Regions from separate parts of the Homo sapiens genome. Here region 1 is linked to region 2. A link means that fine-mapping ties the variant in region 2 to the expression of a gene that starts in the linked region. Tissue or cell type: lung. Region 2 holds a variant in brackets; the other region holds the start of a gene. All regions are shown on one strand. Distances are between the middles of the regions. Region 1 holds the start of CACNB4 (calcium voltage-gated channel auxiliary subunit beta 4). Region 2 overlaps CACNB4 (calcium voltage-gated channel auxiliary subunit beta 4).

What was found.
Region 1: it holds the start of CACNB4, and the variant in region 2 is fine-mapped to the expression of CACNB4 in lung (TOPMed, PIP above 0.99).

What each region holds. Positions count from the first base shown.
Region 1 is chr2:152,094,008-152,102,348 of GRCh38, reverse strand. CACNB4 (calcium voltage-gated channel auxiliary subunit beta 4) reads left to right here and starts at 3,305. Exons shown (of 14, transcript NM_000726.5): 1 at 3,305-3,400; 2 at 3,936-4,019. The coding sequence starts at 3,338. RefSeq lists a silencer at 3,107-3,396.
Region 2 is chr2:152,063,281-152,071,621 of GRCh38, reverse strand. The region is part of intron 2 of CACNB4 (calcium voltage-gated channel auxiliary subunit beta 4); the gene reads left to right. Among named protein-coding and RNA genes, the nearest start is that of CACNB4, 32 kb to the left of the region's middle. The variant A/G (reference allele first, on the strand shown) is at 3,655.

The sequences.
Region 1 (8,341 bases), 31 kb before region 2:
TCCTGGGCTTAAGCAATCCTCCCACCTCAGCTTCTTGGTTAGCTGGGACCACAGACACGCACCACCATGCCTGTCTAACATTTTTTTCTTTTCCTACTCATGCTTTTGGTGTCATGTCTAAGAATTTATTGCCAAATCTAAGGTCATGAAGATTTACCCTTATCTTCTAATAGTTTTATATTTTTAACTCTTTTAAGTCTTTGATTAATTTTGAGTTAATTTTTGTATATGATATAAGGCAGCAATCCCCAGCCTTTTTGGCACTAGGGATTGGTTTCATGGAAGATCAATTTTCTATGGGACGGGGATGGAGGATGGTTTGGGGATGATTCAAGCACATTACATTTATTGTGCACTTTATTTCTATTATTATTACATACTCACCATAATGTAGAATCAGTGGGAGACTTGAGCTTGTTTTCCTGTAACTAGATGGTCTCATCTGGGGGTGAGGGGAGATAGTGACAGATAATCAGGCATTAGATTCTCATAAGAAGCCCACAACCTAGATCCCGTGCATGTGCAGTTCACAATAGAGTTTGCACTCCTATGAGAATGTAATGCCACCCCTGATCTGACAAGAGGCGGAGCTCAGGCCATAATGCTCACTTGCCCCACCGCTCACTCCCTGCTGTGTGGCCCAGTTCCTAACAGGCCACAGACTGGTACTAGTCTGTGGCCTGGGGGTTGGGGATCCTTGATGTAAGGTCAGGGTTCAACATCATTTTTTCCACTCTGGTGTCAGAGGTAGGGACAATGATGCACCTCTCTCTGAGTGACATCACCATGTTAGATGCTGAATGTTTCTGGCAGAAGCACTCAAAGCAGTCCCACGTTTCCTGACTTCTTTCTCGATGAGCCAGAAGCAAAGGTGATCAAGGCCCAAGTACACTCAGTGCTGCTGTGGCCAAGGTACAGCCTCCAGGTACAACTGGGCAGAAGAAGGGAGCCCCCACCTCTGCCATACTTGCTTAGAACTTAGTCTCAACAACAGGTAGCTGCGGGGAGGATGACAAATGCTGATGTTTTGTCCCTCCTAGGAAGCTGACCCTCCAACTGGGAGCTGAAGGGTGAGGGAGCCCTGTGTTCTTGGCTGCACCAGTATAGCGTGGAGCCCTCTCTGAGTTGGAAGCATGAAAAGAGTGAGTAGGTCTTGGTTCAAATACCTCAAGCTCACTTTTCTTACTGGGTTTCAGTAGGTTTTCTTGAATAAATGTTCCTTCATTTGTTGTGCACCTTTAGGACCATTTTTAGAAATTTAAATGGTTGCTTATATATAAAACATATAATTTTCACCAGTTTTGCTTTGAGCTGGGTGTACAGGGCTTCTCATGTTGTTATGCCTCTGTGGGTTCTGTTTCAATAACTTAAAGTCAGTGAGAATGTGGACAGTGGAAAACCACACAATTCAAAGTCCAGTGCTCACATAGTAATTTAATATGCACACACGTATCAACTATGAAAATGGCTCAGAACTAAATACGGATTGGGTTGACAGTAACTAAAGTAGGGAGTCCTGCATGGTTAGACCTCCATTCCCCATAAATTCATGGAGTATCTACTATATGGAAGGTATAGGAATAGAAGATAAACCGCTAAAAATTCTGAAAATTAGGAGATTTTCACAAAAACAGAACTAACAAACTAATAAGCTAAGGCAGCCTATTCTAAGTGCCCAGAGAATACATGCTCCAGTTTTTCAGAAGCACAAGAATTATGTGGGACTGGAGTAGTCAGATAGGATTTCTGTGGAGGAAGCGTGAGCTGAGTCCCATTTAGAAGAAAGGTAGGATTCAGCCGGGTGTGTAGGTTGTTGGGAGGGCATATTCCAAGGAGGCATTCCAAAGCAGAAGAGCTCAAATGTGATTGTATTTGGAATACTTGGGTATTGATGACTAGACCTGCCTGCTTGCTGGAAGGTTTGTATAGAGAGATCAAGATGGAGAAATGAGATGGAGAGTGATCAGAAATGCAGGAGAGGCTGAGTTGTTGGACCATGGAGTTTGGACTTTATCTTAGAGAAGAGTGACTTGGGCAAGATATTTTAGGAAAATGGTTTTGCCTGTAGTGTGTAGATGGAATGAAATCTCTGCGTGTGTATGTGTGCATGTGCATACGTGCACATGCACCAGGAAGCCTGGAGGCAAGGACATTAGTTATAAGATTGTTACAGAGGTTTGGATTAAGTGAAGGGATTAGGAATGGAAAGGAAGTGTCTGGTGGATGGTAAGATATAACCAGGACCTCAATAAAGCCAAGCAATTATTAAAACAAGCATGGTAGTTGTGTCCATAAACATAAAGTCCTAGAATGCAAGCTGATTTAGCGATTTGAGATAGTAAGTATATTTTAATTTAAACGGAGTCTCTTTATTTTTGAATTTGCATATACTTTTCTTCCCTCTTCTTATTCCTCTGTCAATACCTCGCACTTATTCTTCCTTTCCGCAATCCCTCTCTTTTAATTTGATCACAAATTAATCTCTTGTATGTATTTACAGGAGGAAACCAATGGCAAACGTTGTGTATGGTTGCAAGGATGAGTTTCTCCCCCTTGAAAATATCCATTCGCATAGAAATGGGAGGCACAGTGACCAACTCTTGCTTCTTAGCAGGTCTAACATGACCTTCAAAACTCCGTAGGACATACTGGTCTTTGGCGGGGCAGCATCTCCCGTCAGACTCAGGCTGGCTGGGTTTCTCACAGCTGCCTGGATGTGTGTGACTCGCAGCTCTAAGGACAGAATTGCCAAAGCAATACAAAAACACGGACGAAAAGCAAGCCACAAAACCCCATGCCTTACACATTAGGCTGATGAGTGAAGTCGCGGAAGGTGGCTCTGCTCTTGCCCTTTTAAAATTCCAGTGCAGCAAACACACACACACACACCCGCTCGGTTCTTCCCATTCCCGCCACACTGCACCAGCTTCCGTCCCCAAGTCCTGATTCATGAACCGTGCCACCTTTGTCTCATTTTAAACTGTGCAGACTATTTTAATCTTGCCACCCCCATCCCAGATTTCCCCCTCCCTTCATCCTCTGGAAGCTCTGATGTAAAGCGCTTGCTAGGTGGGAGAGCGCTTCTCCCAATCCGCTCGGGTAGGCGAGTTTCCGAGAAGCCCCCTCCCCGGGACCCCGCCGCGAGCGCGGGGGAAGCGCCTCGGTCCCTTTAAGGTGCCGCGCTCTCCGAAGTGCGGGCAGGGAGCCTGGGCGCCGGCGCGGGTCCTGGAGCCGGGTGGGGAAGTCCTGCGCCCTCCCCCTCCGTCCGCAGCCCAGCCTCGGGGGCCAGCCCCCTCCGCCCACCGCACACGGGCTGGCCATGCGGCGGCTCTGAACGATGTCCTCCTCCTCCTACGCCAAGAACGGGACCGCGGACGGGCCGCACTCCCCCACCTCGCAGGTACCGCCCCCTCCTCCCCCTTCTCCTCTTCCTCCTCTTCCTTCCTCACACCTCCTCCGCCGCCCTAGCGCGCCCCGCCTTCGTGCCGGGCGTGCGGGGCCCCAGTCCCGGGAGTCGGCGGCCCCGCTCCCCCCACCCCTCCTCCACGTCCCTTTCTCCTCCCGCTCCTCCTCTTTCTCCTCCTTCTCTTCCTCCTCCTCCTCACCCTCCTTCGGGTCTCTGCGCTCCCGCTCCGGAGCCCGCAGCCTCCCCCAGCGGATGCCGGGGACTCGGACCCCGCACCCTGAGAGTCTTTGTTAATGGATGTGGTGGGTGCTTGCGGGCTGCTCTTCTCGAGCATCTTTTCAGCAGTCGAGGCTTGCAGTGGGTGGGTGGGGGTGGGGGCTGTATTTGGGAGTCGCGGAGGAGACTTGGGTGCGGGCTCTAGGGGACCCCAGGGAGCGGGTCCGGAGGCGGACTCCAGCCGGGGGTGGTCGCCCCGCTCTGCGCTGCGGTCCTCACCGGCTTCTCTCTGGCCCCCGTGTGTCGAGTCCAGGTGGCCCGAGGCACCACAACCCGGAGGAGCAGGTTGAAAAGATCCGATGGCAGCACCACTTCGACCAGCTTCATCCTCAGACAGGTATGAGAAGGAGGCGGGAGACCAGGATGGGGAGGAGGCCGAGCGCGCGGCGCGGGGGTCCTGGAGCCGGCCGTGGCCCACACGTGCGGGAGCTGCGGGTCAAGCCCGCGCGCGTCTCTTCCCGGCCTCGGCCGGTGCTCGGGCTCAGTCCCTCTCCCTCTAGCCTGGGCTCTTGACGTCTTCGCGTCCCGGCGTCTCCGCACCGCCCCGGGAAGTTAGTTTGTGCATGTGTGTGGACAGTTCGGTGGGGACCTGGCTTAAGTCAGGGACGTTGAATTTAAGAGCTGGAAATATGTCTGGTTGTATCTTTGGTGCGTGGAGAAATGTCTTTAATTCGTATAACTCGACCTAGAGTAACCAGACCCCTCGGGGCCGGGGACCTGGTTTGATTCGAGTTGAGATTTAGTGGTTTCTTCTGTTTTGTCCTAATTTGAATACTCTTATCTGTCTGGATCTTGGGAGAGATCGTCAAGCTCCGGTCAAAAGAAAGACACTGAGCAGAAAGTTTACTCTCACTTTAGGACCGCTTCTTGGATTCGCTTAGTTAGGGAAAGACAGCTGTATCTGGTTAAATAGGAATTAACGAAGGCCAGCACTCAGCTCCGGGTCTGGGTGCGCCTTCACTTCGTGTTTGTTTTCTTAGTGCTTGCTTTCTCCTGCGTGGTTCTAGTGCGAATTGTCTGTGCTCGGGATCTCCGGATCGCTGGTAATGCTCAATGCTTAGGTGCCTTTCACCTTGGCACAGGAAATTGGTCCTCAGTTTTCCAACTGTCCATGTGCTGTTAATGAAACCACCCCTGGCTGCTGGGTGCTAGAGAGATCATGCAATGAGTCACCTTGATCTTTCTTTGGAACAGAAATTGTCGGGGTGTGTCCTAGGTTTCGGGTGACCTAGGAAGACATTGGTCATCGCACCAAGAGGCTTTTATCCCAGGTCTTCCTGTGGGCTGCTGGAGTGACCTTGAGAAGTTCTTTTCCCTCTAGGTCACTCAGTATTGTGTAATGTGTTTTCTAACCTATGATGGCAGCTCTGGTGTTTCTTTAGTGATTATCATCAATTTAAACATATCAACGAGGAATTGATATCAAAATTGAACTCAGACCTCTCCTAAAAGGGTCTATAAAGCATATTTAGATGATATTTATTATGCAGAATTTCACTTTCTGCAGAAGCGGAAATTTTGACTACCATTTAATTCAGCGAGCACTAAGCATGTACATTATGGAAATAAATGCATTTTGGATTCCGAATTCATTCTAAAAGTGCATTCTATCCCCTTTGCAGTATTTAGATTATGTATTTGATAAGGCAAACATATTGTTTATCTTAAAAACATTTTTCTGTTATGCAACTGTTTGAGGTCTTGCTGGTGTTTATTTTGTAGGTGCCTATTTTTAGTGGTGTTTCATTGTTGCAAATTCTTGGAAATACTAATTACACAGCAGTTCTTTCCATAAGCTGTTTGACTAAAACTTTTGAGTTCATCTACATAACTGCACTAATGCTTTATTCTTCCTTCCAAGCACAAACAAAATAATATTCTAATATTCTTACTCTTTTCTCAATTTATGCCCGTAACTGATTGAGATGATGTATATATAAGTTCTTGTAAAGCGTGCTGCTATGTGCTGGCTTAAGAAATGTTAAAAGTATTGCATGCTAAATAATTTTGGGAATAATTTAAAGCAAAGTAGATTTTTTTAAATAAATATATTTCATCTATGAAATGGGAATTCATTGGTTTGATTAAATGGTCTAATTTAAATTCAGGAGTTAATTGTAATTGTATTATATACACAATCTTATTTTTCGGCACAAAAATAGTACTTAATTTTTTTCTTTTTTCAGACGGAGTCTTGCTCTGTCGCCCAGGCTGGGGTGCAGTGACGCAGTCTCTGCTTACTGCAAGCTCTGCCTCCTGGGTTCACGCCATTCTCCTGCCTCAGCCTCCCGAGTAGCTGAGACTACAGGCACCCGCCATCACGCCTGGCTAACTTTTTTGTATTTTTAGTGGAGACAGGGTTTCACCGTGTTAGCCAGGATGGTCTTTATCTCCTGACCTCGTGATCTGCCCACCTCATCCTCCCAAAGTGCTGGGATTACAGGCGTGAGCCACCATGCCCGGGCTACTTAATTTTTATGAGCACTTTACAACTCACTGAGTATACTACACATGATCTCATTCAAATGACATCATACAGACTTCTGTATTGGCTACAATAAAAATAACTGAGGGATTTACATTTCTTTGATGAGATAAGGAAAATGATTACAAATGCAGTTTAACAATAACTTTCGGATAAAATTGAAATCACCCCAATGCCAAAAAATATTTTTTATGAAAGCATAACAGCTGCTTACGTTAACAGAGCCTTGGGCTGGTCACAGTGGCTCACGCCTGTAATCCCAGCACTTTGGGAGGCTGAGGTGGGCGGATCACTTGAGGTCAGGAGTTTCAAACCAGCCTGGTAGCATGGTGAAACCCCGACTGTACTAAAAATACAAAGAAATTTGCCAAGCGTGGTGGTGTGTGCTTGTAATCCCAGCTACTCGGGAGGCTGAGGCAGGAGAATTTTTTGAACCTAGGCGGTGGAGGTTGCAGTGAGCCAGTATTGCTCCACAGCATTCCAGCCGGGCGACAGAGCAGGACTCCATCAAACAAACAAACAAACAAAAACAGAGTCTCATTATTTGTAGAATGACCAGTGATTTATTGATATTTGAATTCTTGATACATTGGAGTGATGAAATTTCTTGGTGCTGTTTCACAGTCTTTGTGATGCCTTTGAAGAAGATAGTGGAATACCAAAAAATATATATATTGCTAGTTTCTTTATCATATTATTTACAAAAATATGGAGAAAAGCTTTCATTAAAAAAAAAATCGATGTGTTACATTGGATGGGGAAGACTGGGCTGTTGGTGAAGCAGAGAAGGCAGTTGGCAACTCACCCAATAAGACAATATTTGTTCTTTGAGCTTGTTAAAAAGTTTCAGTGTTTCTGAGACTATATATGCACATATGTGTGCATGCACACACATGAACATTTGAATTGGCTGGAAAACAAGCAGACTGAGAAAGAGAGCCTGCTTCCACTCTGAGGACTGCTCATGAAGCCCCTCAGGAATCTTTGACCTTGTTTCTGGTCTACAAGATTTCTGGCTTCCACCATTTAGGAGGGATGGAGGTTTTGGAATGAATCCAGGGAGCAAATAAATGGCTTCTTTGAGGAAAGGTGAGAAGATGAAGTACTTTGCCGCTGAAAGGAAAGAAAGCTAGGAGTGACCCAGAAATGATCTTCAAAGTACACACAAAGGCTTTCTTTGGAAATGTGATGAAGTGTTCTCACTCTTCATTGGGGATGAAACTCAAGAACTGGCCCAAATTAGAAAGGAATGATGTTTTACAGCAAGACCTTCCTAAGAGTGTTGCCATCATTGGAGTGGCTTTCCAAATGAGGCCATAGAATTTTCTTTCAGGAGAGCCCTTCTTACAGGCTATTTATGAATGGATTATCTAGTCATATTTTAAAGTTTTAGGAAACACTTAAGTATTTGCTATGTGCCTAGCACTATGTTAGATATTGTAGGGGAGGAATGAAAAGATGGATGAGACACAGCCCCTGTACTCAAAGATTTTTATAATCTAGCAATGGAGACAGAGATGTCTACAAACAGTACGGTGACATGTAACAAGGAACGAGAGGGCGGGCTCAATGACCATGTACCCCGAGTATCTATTATATATCCATAAGTATATCTACCCATGGGTGTCACTACACATACAGTTTATACGGCTGAGTACTCCAAGTTAGTCCTCTTCCCACTGGGGTTTGAAGAGAAAATCTGATCAGAGTGGGAATAGTTTGTTGACTTTTCCTTGTTAAGTCTGCTCTTATGAGGCCAGCAAAGTCATACCTGGCCTGGCCCCTGCCTGCTTCCAGCCTCATCTTGAGCCATGATCTCTTAGCTCTGGACACAGAGTTTGAACACACTGTCTTCCCTCTTGCCACTGGTCCTTTGCATATGCTGAGCCCTCTGTGTGGCAGGTTGTTGTCCTTCCTTCTGCCTAGTTAACTTTTAATCTTCCCTGAGATCTGGGGGTTTAGTCTTCACTTCCTCTTCTAACCTTCCTGATAAAGTCAGTTCCCCAACAAGGGGCTCCCAGAGGGCCTTGTGCCAGTTTTCAGTAGCACCACCGCTTTTATTTAACATGTACTTAGATTTCTCTGTTACATTCTGTCTCCCCATCCGTATGAGTTCCACAAGGACAGGGACATGTCTGCATTTGATCTTTGTGTCCTCAGCATCTAGCATAGTA
Region 2 (8,341 bases):
ACCAAACCAACCAAATCTTAGGTTTCCCTTGACTAGTTTTTAATGTAAATTCTTAATTTTTTTCCCTAAAAATTGGCATAACCATCATTAACATAGAACATGCCGAGAGGTTTCATGTCTTTAGCAGCCTAATGTGTAGATATTAAAAGCTTCCCCTTAATAAGAATTACTGCAAATTCATGTTTAGTATCAAAATAATGATAGCCCCAAATTTTGCAAATGGCTGTTTGCCAGATCTTCTGTAACTCTCTCACCCCTGCTATGTTTGAGGAAGTGTTTCTCATAGTAAGGTTTTAAAAATTCTACTTACAAAATTATATATCCTCTTCAGCAGATGGGCTGACCGGCTTACAGTCTCCATGGTAACAAGGTTTCTGTATTTTTCCCCCTTTTTAAAATAGCCTAAAGTCACAGAAGAGAACTTAGATATTAATAGCCTAAGAAATTTCAGTGTGAACAACAGTTATTAAGTATACAGCCTTTGATTACTTGTTTCTTCATCCAGCATCATTTGTGATATATAGCAACTGTGATTAAGCATGTATGAATATAAGTTGGCTGAGTGCAGTGGCTCACGCCTGTAATCTCAGCACTCTGGGAAGCCGAGGCAGGCAGATGCTTGAGGTCAGGAGTTTGAGACCAGCCAGGCCAACATGGCGAAACCCTGTTTCTACAAAAATACAAAAATTAGCCGGGTGTGATGGTGTGTGCCTGTAGTCCCAGCTACTCAGGAGGCTGAGGCAGGAGACTCGCTTGAACTCGGGAGGCAGAGGTTGCAGTGAGCCAAGAGTGTGCCACTGCACTCCAGCCTGGGCAATAGAGTGAGACTCTGCCTCAAAATAAAAAAGCATATATGAATATAATTTTAATATTCATGCAGATTAGGATGTGCCAATTGGTTTGCTGAAATGATTAACTATTGGATACCTGTTTAAATTAGCCTCTCTTTCCCAACTTCCTTTTTGCTAGCCAAATCAGATTATGTACTACACTTCACTTAGGGGTCAACAGCATAGTAATAGTGCATTGCATTATTTCATTATCGATGTGAAAGACAAAACCAAGCCTGTCTTCTTCTTGTGTGGTTTCCGTGAACACCCATTTTTGTGTTAAGTGTAGTGTTTTTGCCAACTATAAAAAAAGCATGTATGACTTCATGGGGCCACAGCCCATGTTGACTTGATTGGGTTCTAGTATCTTTGATATGCATAAAGAATTACAACCCCAAACCAGCTAATACATAAATGATTCTCTAAGGCAAGTACACTAATAAAGCATGAAAAGATATTTTAAAGAGACGGGTATATTTGGTTTGCTAAAATTCTTGCATTTTCCTAAGAAGTGCCCTGTTCTTGATACAGTGTGGTTTGTACCTCCCACAGAAAAATCAATTCTTATTTTTGGATTGACTTTTAAATGTTTATTTTTGTGAAGTCATGACATATTCTTGCTTGTTTAGCTGTAAATATTGATGAAGTTGGCCAGGCGTGGTGGCTCACGCCTGTAATCCCAGCACTTTGGGAGGCCAAGACGGGCGGATCACGAGGTCAGGAGATCGAGACCATCCTGGCTAACACGGTGAAACCCTGTCTCTAATAAAAATACAAAAAAATTAGCCAGGCGTAGTGGCGGGTGCCTGTAGTCGCAGCTACTCAGGAGGCTGAGGCAGGAGAATGGTGTGAACCCGGGAGGCAGAGCTTGCAGTGAGCCGAGATCGTGCCACTGCCCTCCAGCCTGGGCGACTGAGCGAGACTCCATCTCCAAAAAAAAAAAAAAAAAAAAAAGATTGATGAAGTCGTTGTTCTATCAAAAGATCTAGAATAAAGGAGAATATTTTCTGTCCAATAGCAGAAAATTAAGAAAATTAAGCAGACCTGGAGTGCCTGGCCCTGCAATGGGCTCTTTTTAATATGTGATTGGAGCTGAAATCCTATGACAAGATCACCTGAGAGTTTCATTTATATATCTGTTAAAACTTTTTCACCTCATTTTTCCACTGTTGTGTCTCTATATTTATTTACTTTGCTGTCAGCTGATCAGGCTGAGCTATAAAAGACCCAGTGTGGAGGGTATGTGTGAAGGAAGAATTTGATTCTACTGAAAAAAAAAAAAAAAAAAGGCGTGTTCTTTATGTGCTTGTGATGAGATTCAGTGGGAGGTTGGTTGGGGGTGAGTATCTGGTGATGATGCTCTTATCACTGCCACTTCTGCTGCAAGATCAATTTCCTAGGAGGCTTTGAGGTCTTGACCCACATAAAAATACTCCTCCCCTGCCCTCCAAACTATTGGGCTTTGTTTTATCCCATGTTTCTGTGATAGCATGTATGCAGGTATTTATTTGGGAATTGATTCCATGGAGTGGGATTGGAGCGGGTGAAGAACTAATATCAGAATATATTAACAAGTTGGCCAGTGCTGGGAGCAATTAGTGATTGGTGATACCATGCCTCTCTGTGAAGCCCCATGAAATGTGGATCAGAAATGTCCACCCTGGACAGCGGTAGGGGGAAGCATTTATTCACCGGCATCTGTTCCCCATTGACTGAGAGTAGCCTCACAGGGGTTAGCTCCCTCATACTACCTAGTTGCACATGCGTGAGTGCCAAGCATCCGGCACCTCTTTGTGGCCAGAAAGCCAAAGGTCACCGCCTCAGTGTGAAGCTGGTCAAAGCCTATGTGGGCCTGATTATTGCCAGTGGCTAGAGGGGTAGGGCCTAGAGGACATGACATGGTTCCCAAAGGGACCAACTGTGCATCTCAAAGATATCAACATCTCTTTCATCAGTTCACTTTTTTATAGCCTCTGTGAAAGGAGAATTCTCCTTTCTATCCTTCCAGAAAACATAGGTGTGGATTCTTCGGTCTCATATAATAAATCTATACTAATGATCTTACCACCCTGACCCTTCTAATCACCTCCTCAGATCCAGCATCTCCACCTCATTAACAGGAAACCATCTTCCTATCCAGGCTTCTTGGAGCCATTCCATCTGGGTGTTAGGACTGGTTTCAGGTGTCCTTGTCAGGAGTTTGAACCCAGAGTCATGGAAGAGTACCCCCATATCAATAAATTATTCTTTATCCAACTTAGCATTTTGTAGCCCCTGGTCTAAAACCACTCCCGATGATCTTCCTCTGGTTCCCACTGATACATATTCCTTTGATGAATAAGCAGTTTACTTCTGCAGCAGGAACTATATTTCCCTGCTTGGGCTGTGCCGGGACCTGACTGTAGTTACTGGCTCAGAGGCAAAGAGATTAACTGGCAGCAGATCTTAAAAAGGACAAAAATTTCCTTGTTAGGCAGCTACCTCATGTGAAGACTTTGCAGGGTCTCTAGGCAAGGGGATATTGCTCTCCTCTAGCAAGAGGAAGGGAGAGTTGCTAATGGTTTGGAGAATTCAAAGGAACCTGAGGATTAAAGATTCTCAGATGTCTGCCCAGATGCCCTGATTCCAGGTCTTGGAATCCTCTCTTTTCCTATGAGGGCTCTGACTTTGACATGAGAGACGTACTGAGACTGTGCCTTCATTTTCCTTTGCAGGTCTTTCAGCTTTATAGTTAGTTCCTGAGCCTGATTTTCAGCCCCATGGCTGCAGGCAATGAGTCAACCTAAACACTGTCAAGGAGGCCTTTCACAATCCTCTTTGAGTT[A/G]ATAGTTAATGCACCTAAACATATAATTTTAATATTACCTCTTCAAGGCTTCCAAAGCAGTTAATAAAAGCCATACAACTCCATGATTCTTATAATTACCATTGACCCTATGTCATTCAAGTACCACAACTACCACTTAATTCATTATTTCCCTTTCCATATGTACCTCATCCCAGTTCACCACAGGTAAGAGTTTTAGTAGATGTGATGCTACTGTATGCCTGCGATGATTGCTATCCTACTTACCACCAGCAATAGGGCGGGTGATCTAGCTCCATGATCCAGAGGGGCTGCTTTCTAAGGCCACTTGCCTTTATAGCTCAAGTCCCTGCAAAAACAGATCCTGAGATAATTGCTTGCATTCAGGTAGTTTATTTGGGATGAGATCCCAATTGGAGTAAAGGACCTAGGAAGAGAAAAGGGAAGGAGAAAAAGCCAGTACAAGAATACATTATCAGGCTGGGCACATTGGCTCATACCTGTAATCTCAGCACTTTGGGAAGCTGAGGTGGGAGGATTGCTTGAGTCCAGGAGTTCAAGACCAGCCTGGGCAACACAGTGAGAGGCACCCCCCCCCCCACACACACACATCTCTATAAAAAACAAAAAAGAATACATTATCAAACTGACCACTGCTGAGAATACTGGGTACTTGATCTCAGGCACTTTTGAGGAGCCATATAAAATATATCTCAGAACTGTCTGCCTTGGGGCTGACATGCAGAAGCATGTGTCCATTTGCTTCTGTCCCCATTGGCCAAGAGTGGCCCACAGGCATTTACTCCCCTGCACTTCTTTTTTTTAATTAATTAATTTATTTATTATTATACTTTAAGTTTTAGGGTACATGTGCACAATGTGCAGGTTAGTTACATATGTATACATGTGCCATGCTGGTGCGCTGCACCCACTAACTCGTCATCTAGCATTAGGTATATCTCCCAGTGCTATCCCTCCCCCCTCCCCCCACCCCAAAACAGTCCCCAGAGTGTGATGTTCCCCTTCCTGTGTCCATGTGTTCTCATTGTTCAATTCCCACCTATGAGTGAGAATATGCGGTGTTTGGTTTTTTGTTCTTGCGGTAGTTTACTGAGAATGATGATTTCCAATTTCATCCATGTCCCTACAAAGGACATGAACTCATCATTTTTTATGGCTGCATAGTATTCCGTGGTGTATATGTGCCACATTTTCTTAATCCAGTCTATCATTGTTGGACATTTGGGTTGGTTCCAAGTCTTTGCTATTGCGAATAATGCCACAATAAACATACGTGTGCATGTGTCTTTATAGCAGCATGATTTATAGTCCTTTGGGTATATACCCAGTAATGGGATGGCTAGGTCAAATGGTATTTCTAGTTCTAGATCCCTGAGGAATCGCCACACTGACTTCCACAATGGTTGAACTAGTTTACAGTCCCACCAACAGTGTAAAAGTGTTCCTATTTCTCCACATCCTCTCCAGCACCTGTTGTTTCCTGACTTTTTAATGATTGCCATTCTAACTGGTGTGAAATGGTATCTCATTGTGGTTTTGATTTGCATTTCTCTGATGGCCAGTGATAGTGAGCATTTTTTCATGTGTTTTTTGGCTGCATAAATGTCTTCTTTTGAGAAGTGTCTGTTCATGTCCTTTGCCCACTTTTTGATGGGGTTGTTTGTTTTTCTTCTGGGTTGCAAATGCATGAGTGTGGAGCTGCTCCTAAGCCTTAGTTGGCATTTGAAAGCTCTGGAGCAGGAGGTGAAAGGTATGTGGAAGGGGGAGAGGGAGGCAGAGGCAAGGTGCTGTCTGATTATACCTGTTTGAATCTGGTTGAGCCTGCATGTACGTGGCCACGTCAGCAGAGGCTGGAGTAAGATGTGGGGCTGAGAGGTTGCGAAGTACTTGAAGGGCTTCCTGTATAGGCTTTATTCCACTTGATTGATTTAAGATGCATTCATTTATTGTGCTCACTAAATGTATCCACTTTTCTTCTTTGTTTTCTATTATTTCTGATATAAATATATTTAACTTTTGTAACCAAGAATAGTGTTACTTTAAAAATATTATACCCCCTTAGGCCAGATGTGGTAGCAAACATCTGTAGTCCCAGCTACTTGGGAGTCTGAGACAGGAGGATCGTTTAAGCCCAGGAATTGGAGGTTGCAGTGATTGCACCAGTGCATTCCAGCCTGAGCAACAGAGTGACAACCCATCTTAAAAAAATTACCCCCTTACATAAAGATTTTAGGCTTAATGTGAGGACATATAGGACAACCTGAGGAAAGGACAAGTGGAGAGTGTAGAAGAGAGAGAATCAATGATGTAAGTAAATTTCTGCTTGCTGTTACTTTCCAAGTAGAATGTAGGAAAGTTAAACACTATAGCCAAGAGCCTGAATTTGTCCTGTGTGAAGTCCTTCAAGACCTAGTCAAAGTAGCACATTGCTAAAACCTTTTCTTCCCAGCACTCTTTCTTTCCCTCATACTTCAGTGGGCGGGGGTGATCCATGTGACTTTAGCAGATCTAACCAAGCCCTAAGTGAAGTTCCCTGGGGAAAAAGCATGTAACTTCTCTCTCTCTCTTTTTTTTTTTTTTCTTTTGAGATGGAGTCTTGCTCTGCCACCCAGGTTGGAGTGCAGTGGCACAATCTTGGCTCACTGCAACCTCTGGCTCCGGGTTCAAGTGATTCTCCTGCCTCAGCCTCCCGAGTAGTTGGGATTATAGGCGTGCATCACCACACCCAGCTAATTTTTGGTATTGTTAGTAGAGACAGGGTTTCACCATGTTAGCTAGGCTGGTATCGAACTCCTGACCTCAAATGATCTGCCCACCTCGGTCTCCCAAAGTGCTAACTTCTCTTAAAGTTGGAACTATTCTGGGTTTGGGTTGGGGGACAGACATGCAAGTAAATCACATTTACCACACAAGCAAGAGTATGCATGGAAAGGTGAATAAGAATCAGTCCTTGCCCTAAAGAGCCATTCCTTCTGCTGGTCTTGAAGTTTCATAGGAGCGCTGCTGTGTAGCAGCTGATTGTGAACTCAAGGGTCAAGCTTCTCTGGATTTAATATTGGGGGTCTAGTTTCTCTCTATGACAGGTGGAGAGGATTTCTTGGATTTTATGACAATCTAGACAGAATTTCTTAGATTTTATGGTCTAGTTTCTTTGCCCGGATATATTTTGATACCAGTTTTTGGGTAACTGTCTTAGGTGATAATTATGAAAAAGTCTGTTTTCTTTCTTACCTGTATTTATTATTTGAAGAACATATGTATGTACTACTTTAAAGTACATTATAGGGCCGGGCGTGGTGGCTCATGCCTGTAATCCCAGCACTTTGGGAGGCCAAGGTGGGCGGATCACTTGAGGTCAGGAGTTTGAGACTAGCCTGGCCAACATGGTGAAACCCTGTCTCTACTAAAAAAATACAAAAATTAGCTGGGCATGGTGTGGCGTGCCTGTAATCCCAGCTACTTGGGAGGCTGAGGCAGGAGAATCGCTTGAACCTGGGAGGCAGAGGTTGCAGTGAGCTGAGATCGCAACACTGCACTCCAGCCTGTGTGACAGAGCGAGACTCCGTCTCAAAAATAAGTAAATAAAGTACATTATAAACATTCTGGTGCATATACAAAAATGAAATATTAAAGAATAAAATATAGATTTGAATATGGAAATAGAGACTTGAATATTTTCTTCCTGCACTCCAGCAAATGTTTTTGCCTTCTCCCTGGGCTGCCAAAGTCCACGTGGGAGACATCCGATTCAGATGTCCATGGCTCCCTTCATGCACTTCAACAATGTGAATTTTAAGAGATGTTTGGACCCATGTACTCACCGTTAGACATAGCTAGACCTAAACTAACCTCTGTGTGTAGTTATATATTGAAGACTGTCTTCCTAACATTTCAGAACTTCTGTTAATTTCCAGTACTCTATCATTCACAAGACTGTTATTACATTGTCTGCTGAGAATTACAATGAATTTAGAACAGGGGTGTCAGCCTGTGTTGGCAGATAGGTTTTGTTTGGCTCATCATTCAGAAAAAAATAATTTTGAATGACTGCCAAGATTTGAAAGTTGGGGGATTTTGTACACGAGTCTGAATTTTCAACTTTTCTGGAAAAATTGTGAGGAATGGCAAAACTGGCTTTTCATTCTTCTAGGAAGACATTCGGAGCTGATGGGTGGCTGCCTCTTTTAGGTAGGCATCTGCCCTCTTGGTCCTCATTAACCCTGCCCCCCGCCTCACAGCCAGTGTGCTTCACTCACTTATATTACTTATGTGTCTTCTGTAGAATTTAAGTTGTTTGCTTTGGTCTAAATTTTGCAAGTGTTAATATTAACACAGGCTTCTTGAAATTATGTAATATGCAGAAAACTCTTCAAACCTCAATCTGTGAGGAGTGCTGTTTACCTGGTTTATTTGCTGAGAACCCCAGGAGCTTGATTGCATGCACAGGCTGGAGCTGGCTTGGTGCAGTGTGATTTTCCAAACAGCCTCTAGAGCAAGATTGCCTGGGTTCAGGTTCTGACTCTGCTGTTTTCTAACTGTGGGACCCTGGGCACATTAATCACTCTCTGCCTCAGTTTCTTTATCTGCATAATGGAGCTAATAAATGAATAGATGTAAAATAACAGGCTAATAACATTGCTTGGCACATAGTAAGCATTTAGTATGTGTTGGCTGTTATCTTTAATTT